Homo sapiens: one gene and its partners. The protein of the gene in region 2 purifies or fractionates together with the protein of the main gene of each other region. This does not show direct contact. Each region holds a gene or a part of one and is shown on either strand. Other genes may lie near its edges.

Region 1 (7,300 bases), on a different chromosome or scaffold from region 2:
ATCATCAACATTTATCCCAGCGCTGTTTCCTTCTGTATTTTCTTTGGAGTAATTTAAACAAATCCTGGATGTCACAGTATTTTCCTATAAATATTTGAATCCTTTCTTCTAACAGATAAGGGCTCATTTTGTTACAAAACTACCATGGTCTGTTACCACACTTAACATTAAGTCATTCTTTTTGTTTTTTGTTTGTTTGTTTGAGACAGGATCTTACTCTGTCGCCCAGGCTAGCATTCAGTAGCGTTCATAGCTCACTGCAGCCTGAAACTCCTGGACCCAAGCAATCCTCCCACCCCAGCCTCCTGACTAGCTGAGACTACAAGTGTGCATCATCATGACTGGCAAATTTTTTACTTTTATTTTTGTAGAGATGGGGTCTTGCTGTGTAGGTCCAGACTAGTCTCAAACTCCTCAGCTCAAGCAATCCTCCCGTCTCAGCGTGGGAAAGTGCAGGGATTACAGATGTGAGCTACCATGCCCGGCCAACAATCATTCTTTAATGTCATCTGATGCCCAGTTCATGTTCAAATATCCCTGACTTTCTCACAGATGTCTCTCTCCCTGTGGGCGTTTGAGTTTGGAACTTCTAAGTAACTTTTTTGCTTTAAAGAGAAAGGAGAAGCCAGGCACAGTGGCTCATGCTTGTAATCCCAGCACTTTGGGAGGCCGAGGCGAGTGGATCACCTGAGGCCAGGAGTTCGAGACCAGCCTGGCCAACATGGTAAAAACCCATCTCTACTAGAAATATATAAATTAGCTGGGCATGGTGGCGGCCGCCTGTAATCCCAGCTACTTGGGAGGCTGAGGTAGGAGAATCACGTGAACCCAGGAGGCGGAGGTTGCAGTGAGCTGAGATCGCACCATTGCACTCCAGCCTGGGAGACAAGAGCAAGACTCCATCTCAAAAAAAAAAAAGAAAGAAGGGCCAGTAAGAGAAAAATCAGGAATATGTGACATCAGAGATGCTAGGGGAGTCTGTAGAAGGAGCAAGTGAGCAGTGTGCTTTGGATTTAGCATCAGGGAAGACGTGACCAGGATGAGAAAGAAATATGGAGGAGAAGTCCGGGCGCAGTGGCTCACGCCTGTAATCTCAGCACTTTGGGAGGCCGAGGCGGGCGGATCACGAGGTCAGGAGATCAAGACCATCCTGGCTAACACAGTGAAACCCCATCTCTACTAAAAATACAAAAAAATTAGCCAGGCGTGGTGGCAGGCGCATGTAGTCCCAGCTACTCGGGAGCCTGAGGCAGGAGAATGGCGTGAATCCAGGAGGCGGACCTTGCAGTGAGCAGAGATCGCGCCACTGCACTCCAGCCTGGGTGACAGAGCAAGACTCTGTCTCAAACAAAAAAAAAAAAAAGAAAGAAAGAAATATGGAGGAGATGTGGTGAGTGAGATGTGGTAAAAAAATTTTTTTTCTTTGAGACAGAGCCTTGCTCTGTTACTCAGGCTGGAGTGCAGTGGCGTGATCTTGGCTTACTACAGCCTCTACCTCCTGGGCTCAAGTGATCCTCCCACCTCAGACTCCCAGGTAGCTGGGACTACAGGCACTCACCACCACACCCGGCTAACTTTTTGTATTTTTTGTAGAGATGAGCTTTCACCATGTTGCCCAGGCTGGTCTTGAATGCCTAGGCTCAGACCACCTCGGCCTCCCAAAGTGGACTCCAAATAGGTGCCACTGTTGTGGCACCAGCCCAAGGACTCAGTTGAGACCCTAATTGAATGAATTAAAGATGTTGACACATCCATAATCCCAGCACTTTGGGAGGCCAAGGCGTGCAGATCACTTGAGGTCAGGAGTTCAAGACCAGCCTGACCAACATGGTGAAACCCCGTCTCTACTAAAAATACAAAAACAAAACTAGCCGCATGTGGTGGCGGGCGCCTGTAGTCCCAGCTACTCAGGAGATTGAGGCGGGAGAATAGCGTGAACCCAGGAGGCGGAGCTTGCAGTGAGCTGAGATCATGCCACTGCACTCCAGCCTGGGTGACAGAGCAAGACTCAGTCTCAAAAAAAAAAAATGAAAAAATGTTCTAGAACTAGAGTGGTGATGGTTACACAACACTGTAAATGCACAGAATGCCACTAAACTGCTGAACTATACACTTTGAAATGCTCTATTTTACCACAAACTTTTTTTTTAAAGCAATAGGAGGAAAAGAATTAGCTGATGGGGCAGAGGGAGACAGACGTCCCCTCCTAGAGGATTCTGGGTAGGGGTTGAACTGCCCCAGCTCCTCCCGAACCCCTTTCCAAACTGTCTCTACCTCCCCCAGGCCTGGCTGGACACCCAGGACCGGTGCTTGGGCCACTATGTGAATGGGAAGTGGTTAAAGCCTGAACACAGAAATTCAGTGCCTTGCCAGGATCCCATCACAGGTACGAGATGTCCCCCAGTCATTAGTGGAAGGGAGGTATCTGTGCCCTCTAGCCCTACCCACCAACACCCATTCCCCTTGCCTAGGGCCCTGAGGGCAGGAAACAGCTGGTGGTGGGAGATGGGCTGCGATGTCTGGTTCCTTCTGAAACCAGTCACCCTAATTATGGTTCCGGGTCTCTGTGGAGGCTTTGTGAGACTGCTGTCTGTTAAAATAGCTTCCTTGCCCTGGAGGTGATCATAGCCGTGACCCAGCAGAGAATGGGGACCAGCTTTACACTCTTGGGCTGATCCAGGCTCCGAAAATCTCAGCCCCCTCCAGATATGACATGGGCTACTCCTCCCATCTGAGTCCCCCCACTTTTCTCCCCAGGAGAGAACTTGGCCAGTTGCCTGCAGGCACAGGCCGAGGATGTGGCTGCAGCCGTGGAGGCAGCCAGGATGGCATTTAAGGGCTGGAGTGCGCACCCCGGCGTCGTCCGGGCCCAGCACCTGACCAGGTGATGCAGCTGAGGTGTGGACCCCGGGAGGCGGGGAACCCCAGCATCCACTCGAGACCATGGGAACAAAGGCTATTTCCCAAGATCCCACTGAATTAATTTGCAGCTAAGGCTCAGATTCCCAGTATGTGCTGGAGGCAGTCGTGGCTGAAACATGCATCCGTTGTCCACTATTCACTGGGACTAGAAGCCACAAAGCCTCTATTTCCCAGGACATTCTTGGAGTGCATTGGGGCTCAGTTCACTGGGGCTGGTGAAGCCCCTAAATCCATTTCCTAGCCGCTTGCGGGGAAGCTAGAGACAAAAATTCCATTTCCCAAAACGCAATTGAGGTTAGAAGCTAAGACTCAATTTCCCAAAAGCTTCAGGGATTTCCGGCGGCCAAGACCTTTACACAGCATCCTCAGGGTTTGTGTTTCCATGACTATAATTCTCATAAATCTTCACTGCCCTCTGCCCCAGGTAAATGGTGGGGATGCCTCAGGGGCTCATGGGGATTGTAGTCCAGGTATATAGGAGCAGCCCAGGACTCTGCAAGGCTGAGGGCCGTTGGAAAATGAGCACCCTCTTGCTTTCTCGACAGGCTGGCCGAGGTGATCCAGAAGCACCAGCGGCTGCTGTGGACCCTGGAATCCCTGGTGACTGGGCGGGCTGTTCGAGAGGTTCGAGACGGGGACGTCCAGCTGGCCCAGCAGCTGCTCCACTACCATGCAATCCAGGCATCCACCCAGGAGGAGGCACTGGCAGGCTGGGAGCCCATGGGTGAGACCCTGGAGTCCCTAGCCCTATCCTCCCACATGACTCAGCAGTGCTAGCTCCAGTCCCCTCATTCTTTTTCTTTTAGACAGAGTTTCGCTCTTGTCGCCCAGGCCGGAGTGCAGTGGCGCAATCTTGGCTCACTATAACCTCCGCCTCCCGGGTTCAAGTGATTCTCCTGCCTCAGCCTCCTGAGTAGCTGGAATTACAGGCACCCACCACCACACCTGGCTAATTGTTATATTTTTATTAGAGAAGAGGGGTCTCATCATGTTGGTCAGGCTGGTCTCAAACTCCTAACCTCAGATGATTCACCTGCCTTGGCATCCCAAAGTGCTGGGATTACAGGCATGAGCCACCGTGCCCGGTCCCCTCATTCTTTTTCTTTTGTTTTTGTTTTTGTTTTTTTCTTTTTCAGACAGGGTCTTTCTCTGTCACCCTGGCTGGAGTACAGTGGTGCAATTATAGCTCACTGATACCTCGACCTCCTGGGCTCAAAATCCTCCCACCTCAGCCTCCCAAGTAACTGGGACTACGACCATGCACCACCACACCTGACTAGTTTTTGTTTTTGTTTTTTTTTTTTTTGAGATGGAGTTTCGCTCTTTGTTGCCCAGGCTGGAGTGCAGTGGTGCGATCTCGGCTCACTGGAACCTCCGCCTCCCGTGTTCAAGTGATTCTCCTGCCTCAGCCTCCCGAGTAGCTGGGACTACAGGCATGCACCACCACGCCTGGCTAATTTTGTGTTTTTAGTGGAGATGGGGTTTTTCCATGTTGGTCAGGCTGGTCTCGAACTTCCCACCTCAGGTGATCCGCCCACCTCGACCTCCCAAAGTGCTGAGATTACAGGCGTGAGCCACCACACCCGGCCATTTTTTTTTTTTTTTCCTAATGTAGCCATGGGGTCTTGCCATGTGGCCCAGGCTGGACTTAAACACCTAGCCTCAAGGGATCCTCTTGCCTCATTTTTTTCTTGCAGGAGTAATTGGCCTCATCCTGCCACCCACATTCTCCTTCCTTGAGATGATGTGGAGGATTTGCCCTGCCCTGGCTGTGGGTAAATGATGGCCTGGGGGGTCCTGACTCTTGGGTCTGAGAAAGGAGGGGATCGTGGGGCCCAAACTCCAGAGTCTGAGAGACAAGGGGGCTGGAGGCCTGGACTCTGTGGAAGGAGTCTGTGGGAGGAGGGGCTGCGGGTCTGAACTCCTAGGTCTGAGGGAGGAGGAGCTGGAGTCTGGACTCCTGAGTCTGAGGGAGGAGGAGCTGGAGTCTGGACTCCTGAGTCTGAGGGAGGAGGGGCTGGAGTCTGGACTCCTGGGTCTGAGGGAGGAGGGGCTGGGGTCTGGATTCCTGGGTCTGAGGGAGGAGGGGCTGGGGTCTGGACTCCTGGGTGTGAGGGAGGAGGGGCTGGGGTCTGGACTCCTGGGTCTGAGGGAGGAGGGGCTGGGACCTGGACTCCTGGGTCTGAGGGAGGAGGGGCTGGGACCTGGACTCCTGGGTCTGAGGGAGGAGGGGCTGGAGTCTGGACTCCTGGGTCTGAGGGAGGAGGGGCTGGAGTCTGGACTCCTGGGTCTGAGGGAGGAGGGGCTGGGCCTGGACTCCGGGGTCTGAGGGAGGAGGGGCTGGGGGCCTGGACTCCTGAGTCTGAGGGAGGAGGGGCTGGAGTCTGGACTCCTGGGTCTGAGGGAGGAGGGGCTGGGGGTCCAGATTCCTGGGTCTGAGGGAGGAGGGGCTGGGCCTGGACTCCTGGGCCTTTGAGCTGCCCCACTTCCCCAGGCTGCACCGTGGTGGCCCTCGTGCCCCCGGCCTCCCCGGCGCCCCTCCTCCTGGCCCAGCTGGCGGGGGAGCTGGGCCCCTTCCCGGGAATCCTGAATGTCCTCAGTGGCCCTGCGTCCCTGGTGCCCATCCTGGCCTCCCAGCCTGGAATCCGGAAGGTGGCCTTCTGCGGAGCCCCGGAGGTACCTTCGGGACAGGGGTCGTGGCGGAACGCGGCTGGGGGCCGCAAGGCTCCTCCTGCGGCTGAACTGGGGGGGGTCCCTAGGAAGGGCGTGCCCTTCGACGGAGCCTGGCGGGAGAGTGTGCGGAGCTGGGCCTGGCGCTGGGGACGGAGTCGCTGCTGCTGCTGACGGACACGGCGGACGTAGACTCGGCCGTGGAGGGTGTCGTGGACGCCGCCTGGTCCGACCGCGGCCCGGTGAGACCCGTGCGCTCCCGTCTCCTCATACCCTGGAGGCCGTTGGTGTCTGTCTCCAGTCTTCGGGGTCCCGAGTCTCTGTTCATTTTATTTTATTTTATTTTATTTATTTTGAGACGGAGTTTCACTCTTGTCGCCCAGGCTGGGGTGCAGCGGCGCGATTTTGGCTCACCGCAACCTCTGCCTCCCAGGTTCAGCCTGGGAGTAGCTGCCTCAGCCTCCCGAGTAGCTGGGATTACAGGCGGGCACCACCATGCCTGGCTAATTTATGTATTTTTAGTAGAGACGGGGTTTCACCATGTTGGCCAGGCTGGTCTCGAACTCCTGACCTCAGGTGATCCGCCCACCTCGGCCTCCCAAAGTGCTGGGACTGCAGGTGTGAGCCACCGCATCCGGCCTCTCTGTTCTTTAGGACTCTGTTGATTTATCTGAGTGTCCATGTCCCTAGTTTTCCAGCCTCTGTCTTCACTCTTCAGATCACCAACTTGCTAGAGTGCAATGGTGTGATCTCCTGATGCCCCTTTTCCTCACAGGGTGGCCTCAGGCTCCTCATCCAGGAGTCTGTGTGGGATGAAGCCATGAGACGGCTGCAGGAGCGGATGGGGCGGCTTCGGAGTGGCCGAGGGCTGGATGGGGCCGTGGACATGGGGGCCCGGGGGGCTGCCGCATGTGACCTGGTCCAGCGCTTTGTGCGTGAGGCCCAGAGCCAGGGTGCACAGGTGAGGCAGGGGGTAGAGACTTGAGGGTGTCAGGGGAGGAGGGGCCTGGAGACCCAGCTCCTGGGTCCAAGGGAGGAGGGAGCTGGGCGTGGACAACTGGGTCCGAGGAAGGAGGGGCTGGGAGCCTGGACTCCTGGGTCTGAAGGAGGAGGGGCTGGGCCTGGACTCCTGGGTCTGAGGGAGGAGGTGCTGGGGCCTGGATTCCTGGGTCTGAGGGAGGAGGGGCTGGGGCCTGGACTCCTGGGTCTGAGGGAGGAGGGGCTGGGCCTGGACTCCTGGGTCTGAGGGAGGAGGTGCTGGGGCCCGGATTCCTGGGTCTGAGGGAGGAGGGGCTGGGGCCCGGATTCCTGGGTCTGAGGGAGGAGGGGCTGGGGGTCCAGACTCCTGGGTCTGAGGGAGGAGGGGCTGGCGGCCTGGACTCCTGGGTCTGAGGGAGGAGAGGCTGGGGGTCCAGACTCCTGGGTCTGAGGGAGGAGGGGCTGGGGGCCTGGACTCCTGGGTCTGAGGGAGGAGGGGCTGGGCCTGGACTCCTGGGTCTGAGGGAGGAGGTGCTGGGGCCTGGATTCCTGGGTCTGAGGGAGGAGGGGCTGGGGCCTGGACTCCTGGGTCTGAGGGAGGAGGGGCTGGGGGTCCAGATTCCTGGGTCTGAGGGAGGAGGGGCTGGGGGCCTGGACTCCTGGGTCTGAGGGAGGAGAGGCTGGGGGTCCAGACTCCTGGGTCTGAGGGAGGAGGGGCTGGGGGCCTGGA
Region 2 (7,136 bases):
TTTTATTGATCATTCTTGGGTGTTTCTCGCAGAGGGGGATTTGGCAGGGTCATAGGACAATAGTGGAGGGAAGGTCAGCAGATAAACAAGTGAACAAAGGTCTCTGGTTTTCCTAGGCAGAGGACCCTGCAGCCTTCTGCAGTGTTTGTGTCCCTGGGTACTTGAGATTAGGGATTGGTGATGACTCTTAATGAGCATGCTGCCTTCAAGCATCTGTTTAACAAAGCACATCTTGCACCGCCCTTAATCCATTTAACCCTGAGTGGACACAGCACATGTTGCAGAGAGCACAGGGTTGGGTTGGGGGTAAGGTCACAGATCAACAGGATCCCAAGGCAGAAGAATTTTTCTTAGTACAGAACAAAATGAAAAGTCTCCCATGCCTACCTCTTTCTGCACACACATGGCAACCATCCGATTTCTCAATCTTTTCCCCACCTTTCCTCCCTTTCTATTCCACAAAACCGCCATTGTCATCATGGCCCGTTCTCAATGAGCTGTTGGGTACACCTCCCAGACGAGGAGGTGGCCAGGCAGAGGGGCTCCTCACTTCCCAGTAGGAGCAGCCGGGCAGAGGCGCCCCTCACCTCCCGGACCGGGCGGCTGGCCGGGTGGGGGGCTGACTCCCCCACCTCCCTCCTGGACGGGGCGGCTGGCCGGGTGGGGGGCTGACCCCCCCATCTCCCTCCCGGACGGGGCGGCTGGCCGGGCAGAGGGGCTCCTCACTTCCCAGTAGGGGCGGCTGGGCAGAGGCGCCCCTCACCTCCCGGACCGGGTGGCTGGCCAGGTCGGGGGCTGACTCCCCCACCTCCCTCCTGGACGGGGCGGCTGGCCGGGCGGGGGACTGACCCCCCCACCTCCCTCCCGGATGGGGTGGCTGGCCTGGCGGGGGCTGTCCCCCACCTCCCTCCCGGACGGGGTGGCTGCCGGGCGGAGACACTCCTCACTTCCCAGACGGGGTGGCTGCCTGGCGGAGGGGCTCCTCACTTCTCAGACAGGGCAGTTGCCAGGCAGAGGGTCTCCTCACTTCTCAGACGGCGCGGCCGGGCAGAGACGCTCCTCACCTCCCAGACGGGGTCGCGGCCGGGTAGAGGCGCTCCTCACATCCCAGATGGGGTGGCAGGGCAGAGGCGCTCCCCACATCTCAGACGATGGGCGGCCGGGCAGAGGCGCTCCTCACATCCCAGACGGGGCGGCGGGGCAGAGGTGCTCCCCACATCTCAGACGATGGGCGGCCGGGCAGAGACGCTCCTCACTTCCTAGATGGGATGGCGGCCGGGAAGAGGCGCTCCTCACTTCCTAGATGGGATGGCGGCCAGGCAGAGATGCTCCTCACTTTCCAGACTGGGCAGCCAGGCAGAGGGGCTCCTCACGTCCCAGACGATGGGCGGCCAGGCAGAGACGCTCCTCACTTCCCAGACGGGGTGGCGGCCGGGCAGAGGCTGCAATCTCGGCACTTTGGGAGGCCAAGGCAGGCAGCTGGGAGGTGGAGGTTGCAGCGAGCCGAGATCACGCCACTGCACTCCAGCCTGGGCAACATTGAGCACTGAGTGAACCAGACTCCGTCTGCAATCCCGGCACCTCAGGAGGCCGAGGCTGGCGGATCACTCGCGGTTAGGAGCTGGAAACCAGCCCAGCCAACACAGCGAAACCCCGTCTCCACCAAAAAAATACAAAAACCAGTCAGGCGTGGCGGCGTGCGCCTGCAATGGCAGGCACTCCGCAGGCTGAGGCAGAGAATCAGGCAGGGAGGTTGCAGTGAGCCGAGATGGCAGCAGTACAGTCCAGCTTCGGCTCGGCATCAGAGGGAGACCGTGGAGGTAGAGGTAGAGGTAGGGGTAGGGGTAGGGGTAGGGGTAGGGGTAGGGGTAGAGGTAGGTAGAGGTAGAGGTGTAGAGGTAGAGGGGAAGTGTGTGTTTGTTGATTGATGGGTGTACATGATTACAAGTGTGTGTTTGTTCTGTGGTGACCCACTGGACAGCAGGGGGAAAAAGAGGCAGGTAGGTGCCTCCGAATTAGACACTTTATTTTATTTATTTATTTATTTATTTATTTATTTATTTATTTATTTATTTTTTGAGATAGAGTCTTGCTCTGTCACCCAGGCTAGAGTGCAGTGGTGTGATCTTGGCTCACTGCAACCTCCGCCTCTTGGGTTCAGGCGATTCTCCTGCCTCAGCCTCCTAAGTAGCTGAGATCACAGGCATGTGCCACCACGTCCGGCTAATTTTTTTTATTTTTAGTAGAGACGGGGTTTCGCCTTCTCTACTAGGCTGGTCTCAAACTCCTGACCTCAGGTGATCTGCCTGCCTCAGCCTCCCAAAGTGTTGGGATTGTAGGCATGAGCTACCATGCCCGGCCTGAATTATACACTTTAAACGGGTGTATTTTTTATCGTTTGTGAAATTTTTTATGGAAGGTGAAATTTTTTATGGTTTGTGAATTATATATCAATAAGGTTTTGTTAAAAAAAAACACAACTAACTACAGATTACATCTAATTGACAGCATATTTTTACTGCCCTGAATCCAAAAAGAAATGCCCAGGTATGGGCTAGGGGTGGGCAGAGACACACACACTTGTAATCATGTACACAACTGGGAGTAGTGGGGATGAGTCTGTGGGGAAAAACAGGAATTCAGAGTGCTGAGAAGCTTCCCTTACTGCCCTGCCCACTTCCCTCCCCTGGGCATTGCTCCCTCAGCCTGGATTCACAAAGTCAATGCCTTTGGGAGCCAGGAACTAAATTCTTAGTCAAAGACACCTCCCTCCTGTCCAGTTATGGGTCTCAGGGAGGAAATGGCAGGTGGGTGGTTTCATTCTTTCAGTTTCAGAAAATATCTGTAGACATAACATATTTCCTCTATTAAACAAATTCTGAGGTAAGGGGAAACAGAGAGAGACAGTCAGAACATTATAAGTCGAAAAGAATCTCAGCATTCTTAGTTTAGGGAAGTTGGCCTTGCTCGCTGTGTGGTAGAAAAGCTGATTACGGGAGAGAACCGTGGAGGGAAGGAAGGGAGGCAGTTTTGTCATCCCCACATCCGGTTTTGACTGGACACCATGCAGGCTGAGATCAACTTCAGAGGCAGTCAGCTGGAATCCCATAGCTTTATTTGCCCATTTATTGTGTTGTTATTTTGTTGTTGTCATTACTGGAAAAGGCAAGAGTAGAGCTATCAGAATGTCTTCCTTGAACATGCTGTCAACAAACCCCAGGATTTTTATAAACCCTATGTGAAAAACACGCTAAGAATCTCTTTTCTTCTTAGCATATTTTTCACTTAGGGTTTACAAAAATATGTTTTGAAGAAAGCTTGAAAAGATCAGTGGAAAAAAATTCAGCACCAAATTTTCTCTGAAAATCAACTTGTCAAAAAAGACGTGATTAACATCCATCCTGTAACCAGCACATGAATGATCTTCCCTCTTTACGAGTGTGCTTCAGCAAAACTTTAATCTCGACCCCTCCCTCTTTCCACTTTTAATAGTGGATGGATGAAAAGGCAAGAGGAAAAACAAAGCAGCCGAAACACACCCAGACGCACACTTCTGCCAAGCATAGCCACCACGGTAAGCATTTTGAATTCAGCCAATTATGATCTGTGGATTATTAACATTACCTCATTTACTTCATCAGTGTAGACAATAGTAAACTGACTGTAGTGAAATTTGGAACCATAGAAACGTGATTCTATTTTAATACAGGCCTATCAGGTAACCCACAGACTATGCTACATATGAATAAGAGAAAATAAGTTTATTCTTAACTATGTAATGTAATTCCAGTGGAATTCGGTAGGTGGCATAAAACAGCCTTTTTGTTTTGTTTTGTTTTCAACACCAAATGTGGTTAACAGTGAAATAAATTCAAGGAAGTGCTTGAATTTCTTACAGACTGCCAAATGGAACAGACAAGCAGGTTGTCTTGGTAAGCAACACATTCTTTTCTTTTGTAAAAGAAAATAATTGTATAGCTAGTTATTAAGTACAGAAGTCTCAAAAATCTGTGTAAGTCCTGGGTGTTTTTCTAAGTGGGTTATATTTCTGATATGTATATAGTTACTGTGTAGTTTGTACTGGCATTTGTGTATCAGTTCTGAGTCCTAAATCAGAGAAAGTCCCCACACTCCTCTGGGAATAACACCTCGTGTGTGATTTGCTTATAGGAAATATTTTTGAGTTGGGAAATGAATATTTGGGTCACACACGTCTTCTGGTTTTCTTCCAGAGCAGCTGCTAGTTGTTGATTTTGACAGCATTTCTCTTCACCTAATCCCGCCATTTGTATTCTCTTCTCAGTGTTAAAGAAAATGAGATATAAGTCAGTTACTCCCGGAGGCAATGCTGCTGTTCAGCTCTTCTGTTTTTGTGGCCAGGTTTGTTTCAGTTTTTCTCTCTGGGGCCTTCCCACTAGCTAGTCCTTCTGTTTCTCAGGCCACTAACACTGTTCTGGGGAGCTAGACGTGAGGTAGAATTGCAGGTTTTGAAAATGTTTCCCAGGCTACATCCAATTTGGTCAAAAGACTTGAAAGTGAATTTGTTTTATAACAAAGCAAGAGTTCACAAAACCGCATAGAAAGCAAAGCAGAACAGTTCTTGAACTGTCTCAGATTCTTTTAACCTTTGGTTAATAGCTATTTGGTCTTGTGCAGAGAAGGCCCTTAGTAAATATTTACAGGACTAAACTTAATGGGCCAGATAGATTGTATGGGTATTGTCCATTAAGACCAGTCAAAGCCTTGATTTGATGCCTCCAAAGTCTCCAAAAGAAGACAAATTAAATGTATTGATTCATTGTATCATATAATGTGAGGCTAAACCTATCATAATAATGAAAATTCACAGAAGCTCACCTAGAGGCATTTTACACTTTCAAATTAAAGCATCCTTTTCTGCTCAGCTTATTTTTTGGATAGTAAAAGAGTTTAAAGGTTCTAAAATAGATGAGGCTCAGTCATGGTCATTAAGACGTTGATCAAAAAATTCTTTGGTCTAGGAAACTGAGACATTGATTTTCATGGATTTAGCAAGTTTGGTATATAAAATTCAAAGATCCTGGAAGTATTAAAAATCAGTTATTCCTGTGTATAACATTTTGATTTCTTAATTATAGAAATAAGAATGGTTTCATAAACTGAGTACTTAAAATTAATGACTTTAAATGAAAGGGCAAGATGGAGGTTAGGCAAATAGAAGATATTTGAGTCAATTAATTTAGCTCGACATAAAACTGAAGCTATGCTTTCATTAAATGCTTGCGTTAGCAGTGGTGAATCCATATGGGTCGTAGAAACTTAATTCTTGCCTCCTCAGTGGAAAGAATTTGTGTGAGGGGCATAAGGCAGAGTGAGAGACCGAGGCAAGTTTTAGAGTAAGAGAGAGAGTGTCACGCCCAGGGCCAGGTTCCAGCCCATACTGAGGTCTGAGGGGAGGGGGTGGATGAGCAGATAGCTGAAAGAACACTCAGGGGGCCGTAGGCAGGTGAAAGGTGATTTTATTCAGCAACAGCTCTCATTAGCAGCTTACTTACAGTAGTTCTCTCAGACTGTCCGCCTTGTCCTGGCTGCTTAGTTCGGCAGCTTCCACACACAACTGTGCGTCCGGCTCTCCCTTGCCCTCAGGGTCAGCAGCTTAACTCTTTCTCTCTCTGGGTACAAGCAAGCCGAGCTGTGTCCTGGCTCCCCTCAGTCCATCTGCAAAGATGGACAGCTTTGGCTCTCTCTCTCTCTCTTTCTCTGGCTGCCAATGCACCTGTACAGCGTCAGCAGGGCAATTATACCATTTACGGACAATAGTGGCTTAGAGCCAAGGGATGAACCTTCCCTATGTTATGGCTATGGTAAGCTTCTCTATGTTATGTCTACATGGCTATGATAAAAAGTGAGTTATACGCCTGCGCTCTAAACTCGCTGAGTCACTCTGGATGTTTACCTTGGCCTATCCTTGACCAAAGCACAGCCATATTCCTTACAGAGAGTTTATTAAGAAGTTTTAGATCAGGAACGAAAGGAAATAAAGTACACTTGGAGGAGGGCCAAGTGGGCAACTTGAGAGATCCAAGTGCCCAGTTTAACCTATTACTTGGGGCTTATTTGTTGGCAGGCTTCTGGAGTCTTGCGTCTCTTCTCCCCTGATTCTTCCCTTGGGGTGGGCTGTCTGCATGTGCAGTGGCCTGCCAGCCCTTGGGATGGGCTGCACACACACTGTGTTTACTGAAGTTGTGTACATGCTCATTGGAGACATTTTTCCCTTGCCAGACAAGTCTTCCTAGAGGAAGGTCACATACCCGTTGAAGTCCGCCATTTTGCCTCTTGGTATGCATGCTCAAGCCTGCTTGCCCAGCTCCTGAGAGTTTGTCAGGAGTCTGCTAACCACCAGCTTCAGGTGTGTTTTCTATCTATTAGGAGACTGACTTTCCCTGATGCTGGCTGCAAACAATTATTATTCTAGAGAGACTGTTTTTTTGTTTTTGTTTGTTTGTTTTTGAGACAGAGTCTAGCCCTGTTGCCCAGGCTGGAGTGCAATGGCATGATCTTGGCTCACTGCAACCTCTGCCTCCTGGGTTCAAGCAATTCTCCTGCCTCAGCTTCCCCAGTAGCTGGGATTACAGGCACCTGCCATCACGCCCGGCTAATTTTTGTATTTTTAGTAGAGACAGGGTTTCACCATGCTGGCCAGACTAGTCTCAAACTCCCGACCTCAAGTGATCCACCTATCTCAGCCTCCCGAAGTGCTGGAATTACAGGCGTGAGCCATGGCCCCCGGCTTAGAGAGACTGTTTAACAACTGCCTGATCATCACCTGATGGTCACCTGATATTCCTGGTTGGGGGGCCCCTCTCCTGTCCTGCTCATGTCTGCCTAAGTACCTACTCTAACACTTGGGGGCAGGCAGTTATATAAATTTATATATTTTTGTGATGATAGCTGTTGTTAAGGGAAAAAGGACAACTTTCATCTTGCGTGTGGTAGGTTCTGCGAGCCAAGCTCTCGCACTCATGCACGGGGTCCTGTGTGCCTCTGATCACTTTTGAATACCACGCCTGACTGTGCTGATCACTGCTTCCATGAACTCTGGAGTTGGCTAGGAGGTGGAAAGAGCCTTGATCTGGATTCAGGCATAGGAATAAGCA
Region 3 (4,850 bases), on a different chromosome or scaffold from region 2:
GCTGGGACAGACAGAGAGCAAAAAAGCCAGCCACCATGAGGCAGATTACCGTCCTCTCAGCTGATGGGGAGCTCTGTTTATGTACACCTGACTATGTGTACCGAGGGACAGGGAGACATGGGGGTGACTGCACGCACTTGGGAGCCAGCCTGTCTGCTTGGGCTTGATTTTTAACTCTGCTAATTTTGAGCAACCTTTGGCACGTTGCTTAAACTCTTTGTTCCTCATTCCCCTGTCTGTATAAAAGGATGTTTACATGAGTACTTACTGCTATAAGAAGCAAAACCCTTAACTGTATTTACCTTACTATTATGAGGATTAAATGAGAGTTAAATAAATTGATATATGTAAAGCTTATTACACAGCAAGTGCTGTTAATATCTACTGTTTTCCTCCATTCACTATACCAGAAAATTTGAAGTTTCAGAACACATACATAAGTTGCATTCATTAATAACATACTGGGGTGTTTTACAGATATATACCCAAGGAATCAACTAGAGAGATTCAGAGACTCACTGATCAAACCTCTTTTTATGTTTAATGGATTATTTTTTCATTATGTATTGTAACAATTTTTAAGTTTTTTAAAAAAATAAACTATAGGAACTTTATTATTTTAAAAATTTTAATGATATTCATCGTTGTATATGACAATGTCAGAAATTTCATTAGGACAACAATTAATAAAAGCGCCTATCCACGGCAAAAATGAAAGATGAGTTTTCACAGCAGGAAATTAGTGCTGAATCAGTGACTCCTGAAGTCGTTACAGCAGCGCTTGCGAGATGTTGCATTTTCCTCTGCTAGGGCACACTGCTTGGGCGGTTTAATATTGTTTTTTTCTCCCTTAGAATTTGATGTTATCAAAGCTACCATTAACATTTTACTTAAAGTTTTTAGGAGAAACTCTTCACAAAGTTAATAGTGCAGATCTTCTAGTAATTAAGATCATTTCAGATGTGCCTGAAATGAGTACCACATGTGGATGAGTTTGCTTTTTCCATTCCATTAAGTTCGGTAGAAATTTTAAAGAGAGGAATGCCAGTTACCTACTGCCCAATTTTTTAATTAAATAATTTTAGCAATTACGTAGAAAAATAATTTTTAAACATTGTCGTAAAGAACTTTTCTGGAACTGGTGACTGATTTAAGACATTGGAAGATCATGATAAGCTGCATATCTTCCAGTCACATGATGGTAAATCTGTGAGGAAAAGCAGAGTTTAATTAACAATCATTCTATAATTATACACATCAGTTAATAATTATACTATCAAATAATAATAAATAGTTTTAATGAACATTTCATTAGAAAGCCTCACTAGTATGTGCTTCAGCAGAATCTCCACCCTACTCACTTCTGATGGCGGTTTGCTTGGAAGAAAAGGTAGAGGATTGGGTAGGATGAGGTCAATCAGATGAGTTTTTATCTCCAGTTCTCAATTTGACTTTTCAATTCCTTTCTCAAAAAACACTTGTTAATTTATTCCAAAGACAGAGATGATTACTCACCTGCCTCTCAATGTCCGAGAGCAGAGTACTGGCACCTATTCGAAAGAGTTCTGGCTTCAGCCACTCATCTCCAAGCTCCTCCTTTACAAGAGAGAGCCAAGCAAGGGAATCCTTTGCACTGCGGATGCCTCCTGCTGGTTTAAACCCTATCTAAATGGGAAGGCAGAGAATAGAACAATCTTTATTGTTATTGGATTTCTTTTAAAAATAGTACTATGTTTATCAGAGTCTTGATTCTCTCTCTCCCTCTTTTGTTGAAAAAAAATCTTTTCACTTCATCCAGTGAAAGGGCTTAGATCAGTGACTCATGCTCATTCACACTACAAAACAACTTTTCCAAGATTTTTGGAAGAATGTCACTACTTCCAAACAGACACTAGTGAGGGTTAATAACCCTCATTAACATTTCACTTATTGGAAAGTCATAAACCTCCACCATCTAGACTATAGCTGTGAACCTGGAATAAACAAGGAAGGTGTCAATAAATAGGAAAACAGATCACAAAAGCAAAGCCCACTCATTCTACATTTCCACAAGTAAGCCTGTAGAGTCACTTCTCAGCCTTCATCTTGAGGTTCAAAAGACACGTGCATTTAAAATCAAAGGACAGAATCAGCAAGGCTGCAAGGTTACCCTAACCAAACTGGCAGCAAAAAAGCAAGGAAAGTTGACAGTTGTTTTAACCAATTTAACTGTGGGATTTTTTTTCTAAGTTGCAGGCACACACAGTTCTAAAAAGCTGGCAGACCAGTTACATAAGGGCAGTAGAAAAACACCGTGAGGGGCTCCTCATAGTCCAGTAGTCTTTAAGGTTGATCATAACACAGCTGAATTCAGCCAATATCTGATATTCGTAAATGATGTCCCTGGATCCATTAGGAAATGAAAGATATGTTCCATATACAATAAAACTCTGATTATCTGGATTTACATGTTTCAGGAACCTGACTATCCAGTAGAGTTGGGAATCTGTAGATGGTAGTGGTCAAAACAACACCTCAGAGCCTGAGTACTAAATCTCTCACGTTTTATCACTCAGGGCTATGACTGGTTGCACCAGCAGATGACTGCTAACAGAATGCTAGAGAAGGGAGACATTAAATGAATATATTCTATTATCAACCCAAGCAGGAAACCTTATAGTTTAATCCAAACTCCACCATTCCCTGGCCACACCACACCCAATCAATATTTAAGTCCTGACAATTCTACCTCCTTACCTTCCTTACCCCCTCACATGCACTCTTTCCACTGCACTCTCACTTGTTTCAGTTTAGACCCTTATCAATTCTCACAGGAAATATCAGTAAAAGTCTTTTAACTGGTTTCCCTGCCTCAATTACACAACGTCACACAACTAAGCAGTAGCAGTGCACGGATTCCAACCATATCTGCTATTACTCTGGAGCCCAAGCTGTAAGGTAGTAGGGGGTTAAGTAGGATGAGGTTATTTGTTGAGAATAAGCCAAAAAAATCAATTAGTTGATATTAGCATACATGTTAATCATAGGACCATTTTTGTCAATTAGGCAGTGCTTCTTACAGATTTCCTATACAGTTCAGTTTGTGTCAGCAAGTCTGTTTCCAGAGAGGTTCTAACATAAGTTTATCTTTTTTTTTTTTAAAGAGAATATGGAAGACATAAATCTGCAATGAAATCAGTTATGAAATATTAAACCTCTGCTTCTCAGGAGTGACACTAATCATGGTCTGGAAGCTAGCCTATCGCATTTTAAAACACCCTTAAATCAATGACGTAGAAACTTTATAGTCTAAGGGCTGCCCAAGCAACTTGTCAAGCAACCCGAAAGGCTGCACCTGATTTGCAAACACATACACAGAACCTATTTGTTTGAAATCGAATATGATTAAATGAATACAATTTGGCTTGTACCTGTCTTTTTCTTAATAAAACTAGGATGGACTTATTTATTACCGAGGAAAAGAATCAATACAATTAAAAAGAAAGGACTGAAAGACAGCAAAGTGTCCCTCCCTCTGTACTCTGGCCTGGAACACTGAGCACTTAAAAATTTCATTGACATTCTTTGCTTGTTGTCTAAGAGCTCTCCTGAGAAGGAACATACTCATTTTTCCATTCCTAGCATTTAACACAGGTTAACATGGCACATGGTTAACTACCCAATAAATGTTTGTTGAGAACAAAACAGGACTGGGTCCCCAATGGCAGGTCTGAACCCTGGCAATGGAACTTAATGCAAACAGATGCCTGAAGACTATGCCAGACCCAAAACCACCAGGGATGGGGGCCCAGGCATCTGTAAGTATGAAAAGCTTCACATTTGGTTTTGATATTCTTTGGCTAAGAATGAGAATCACAATCAAATGAGTGGTGGTAGTTTCAACTGAGGACCAAAGATAGATTTATCATTTTTACAGCTTATCTAAACAAAAACTCTTTTAACTTATTTGGATTGTTGCAGAAAGGATACCAGGTAGAGGTTATTCGAGTTGGGTCAGCTTTCTCATGTAGTTCACAATAGATATTTATCCTATTCGTAATTAAGATGTGAAGTTATTTTAAGTGAGAAAATTCTGGAAGGAGTTTATTTCCTCTCATAAAACAGTATATTAAAAAAAAGGTCACTATTCCAAAATAAACTGAAGCTACACTTACATATAAAGTCATCACATCCAATGGACAAAGGATTAAAGGTCTTTTTTGGGTTTCTATTTGGCACAAATCAAGAGACTGGATTTAAAAGATGCCTCTCAGGAAGGGAAAGTGTCATTAAACACACACACACACACACACACACACACACACACACACACACAACCTTGCTCTCCAATCATGTAAAAAAAAAAATCCTTTGAGATAATTTGCAGCTAAACAAGTAACTTGAGATGAAAAGGAAAATCCAAACTCATTTTTAAAAAAGCAACTCATACGCATTTTTCCTTTTAACTTCATATGTTTCAAAAAATATGTATCATTTTTCGAAAAGCTGACAAAAACTAGTATACACCCTCCTCAGCTTAACAGTCTTCCAAAGAGCACATCCAACTTCCATAAAACGCAAAAATTGATATTTAATTCAAGAGCTATATAACGTCTAGCTACCTTTTCCCTGCTGTTTCACAGCATTTCATTATTTTGTTTAATAAGTTCATCTCCTCGAGAATTTTCTCTTCACCTCATATTATTAAAAGTAATAAGTTTTTCTGGACCGGGGGTTTCCCAACAGAAAAACCAATTTATGTGTGTCCTTCAATAATGACAGGAAAAGATTGTTTCCCATTATATTGCATACCTTTCATATCACCACCACAGCTTATCATTCAATAAATGTTACTCTGCAATTCTTTCCAT

The links.
Region 1: the proteins of TLR1 (region 2) and ALDH16A1 purify together in Homo sapiens (affinity purification with mass spectrometry; 2 studies listed by BioGRID and IntAct, with this or other methods). This does not show direct contact.
Region 3: the proteins of TLR1 (region 2) and DERA purify together in Homo sapiens (affinity purification with mass spectrometry; 2 studies listed by BioGRID and IntAct, with this or other methods). This does not show direct contact.

What each region holds. Positions count from the first base shown.
Region 1 is NC_000019.10:49,456,203-49,463,502, forward strand, and holds part of ALDH16A1 (aldehyde dehydrogenase family 16 member A1), read left to right. Parts: intron 1-613; exon of another isoform or gene 614-721; coding exon of another isoform or gene 722-724; intron 725-2,283; coding exon 2,284-2,386; intron 2,387-2,757; coding exon 2,758-2,884; intron 2,885-3,467; coding exon 3,468-3,646; intron 3,647-4,619; coding exon 4,620-4,697; intron 4,698-5,416; coding exon 5,417-5,598; intron 5,599-5,681; coding exon 5,682-5,834; intron 5,835-6,367; coding exon 6,368-6,553; intron 6,554-7,300.
Region 2 is NC_000004.12:38,801,550-38,808,685, reverse strand, and holds the start of TLR1 (toll-like receptor 1 precursor), read left to right. Parts: upstream 1-3,894; 5' UTR 3,895-3,932; intron 3,933-4,303; 5' UTR 4,304-4,380; intron 4,381-7,136. UniProt on the Homo sapiens protein: Participates in the innate immune response to microbial agents. Specifically recognizes diacylated and triacylated lipopeptides. Cooperates with TLR2 to mediate the innate immune response to bacterial lipoproteins or lipopeptides.
Region 3 is NC_000012.12:16,033,047-16,037,896, reverse strand, and holds the end of DERA (deoxyribose-phosphate aldolase), read right to left. Parts: intron 1,666-4,850; coding exon 1,516-1,665; intron 1,208-1,515; coding exon 1,151-1,207; 3' UTR 516-1,150; downstream 1-515. UniProt on the Homo sapiens protein: Catalyzes a reversible aldol reaction between acetaldehyde and D-glyceraldehyde 3-phosphate to generate 2-deoxy-D-ribose 5-phosphate. Participates in stress granule (SG) assembly.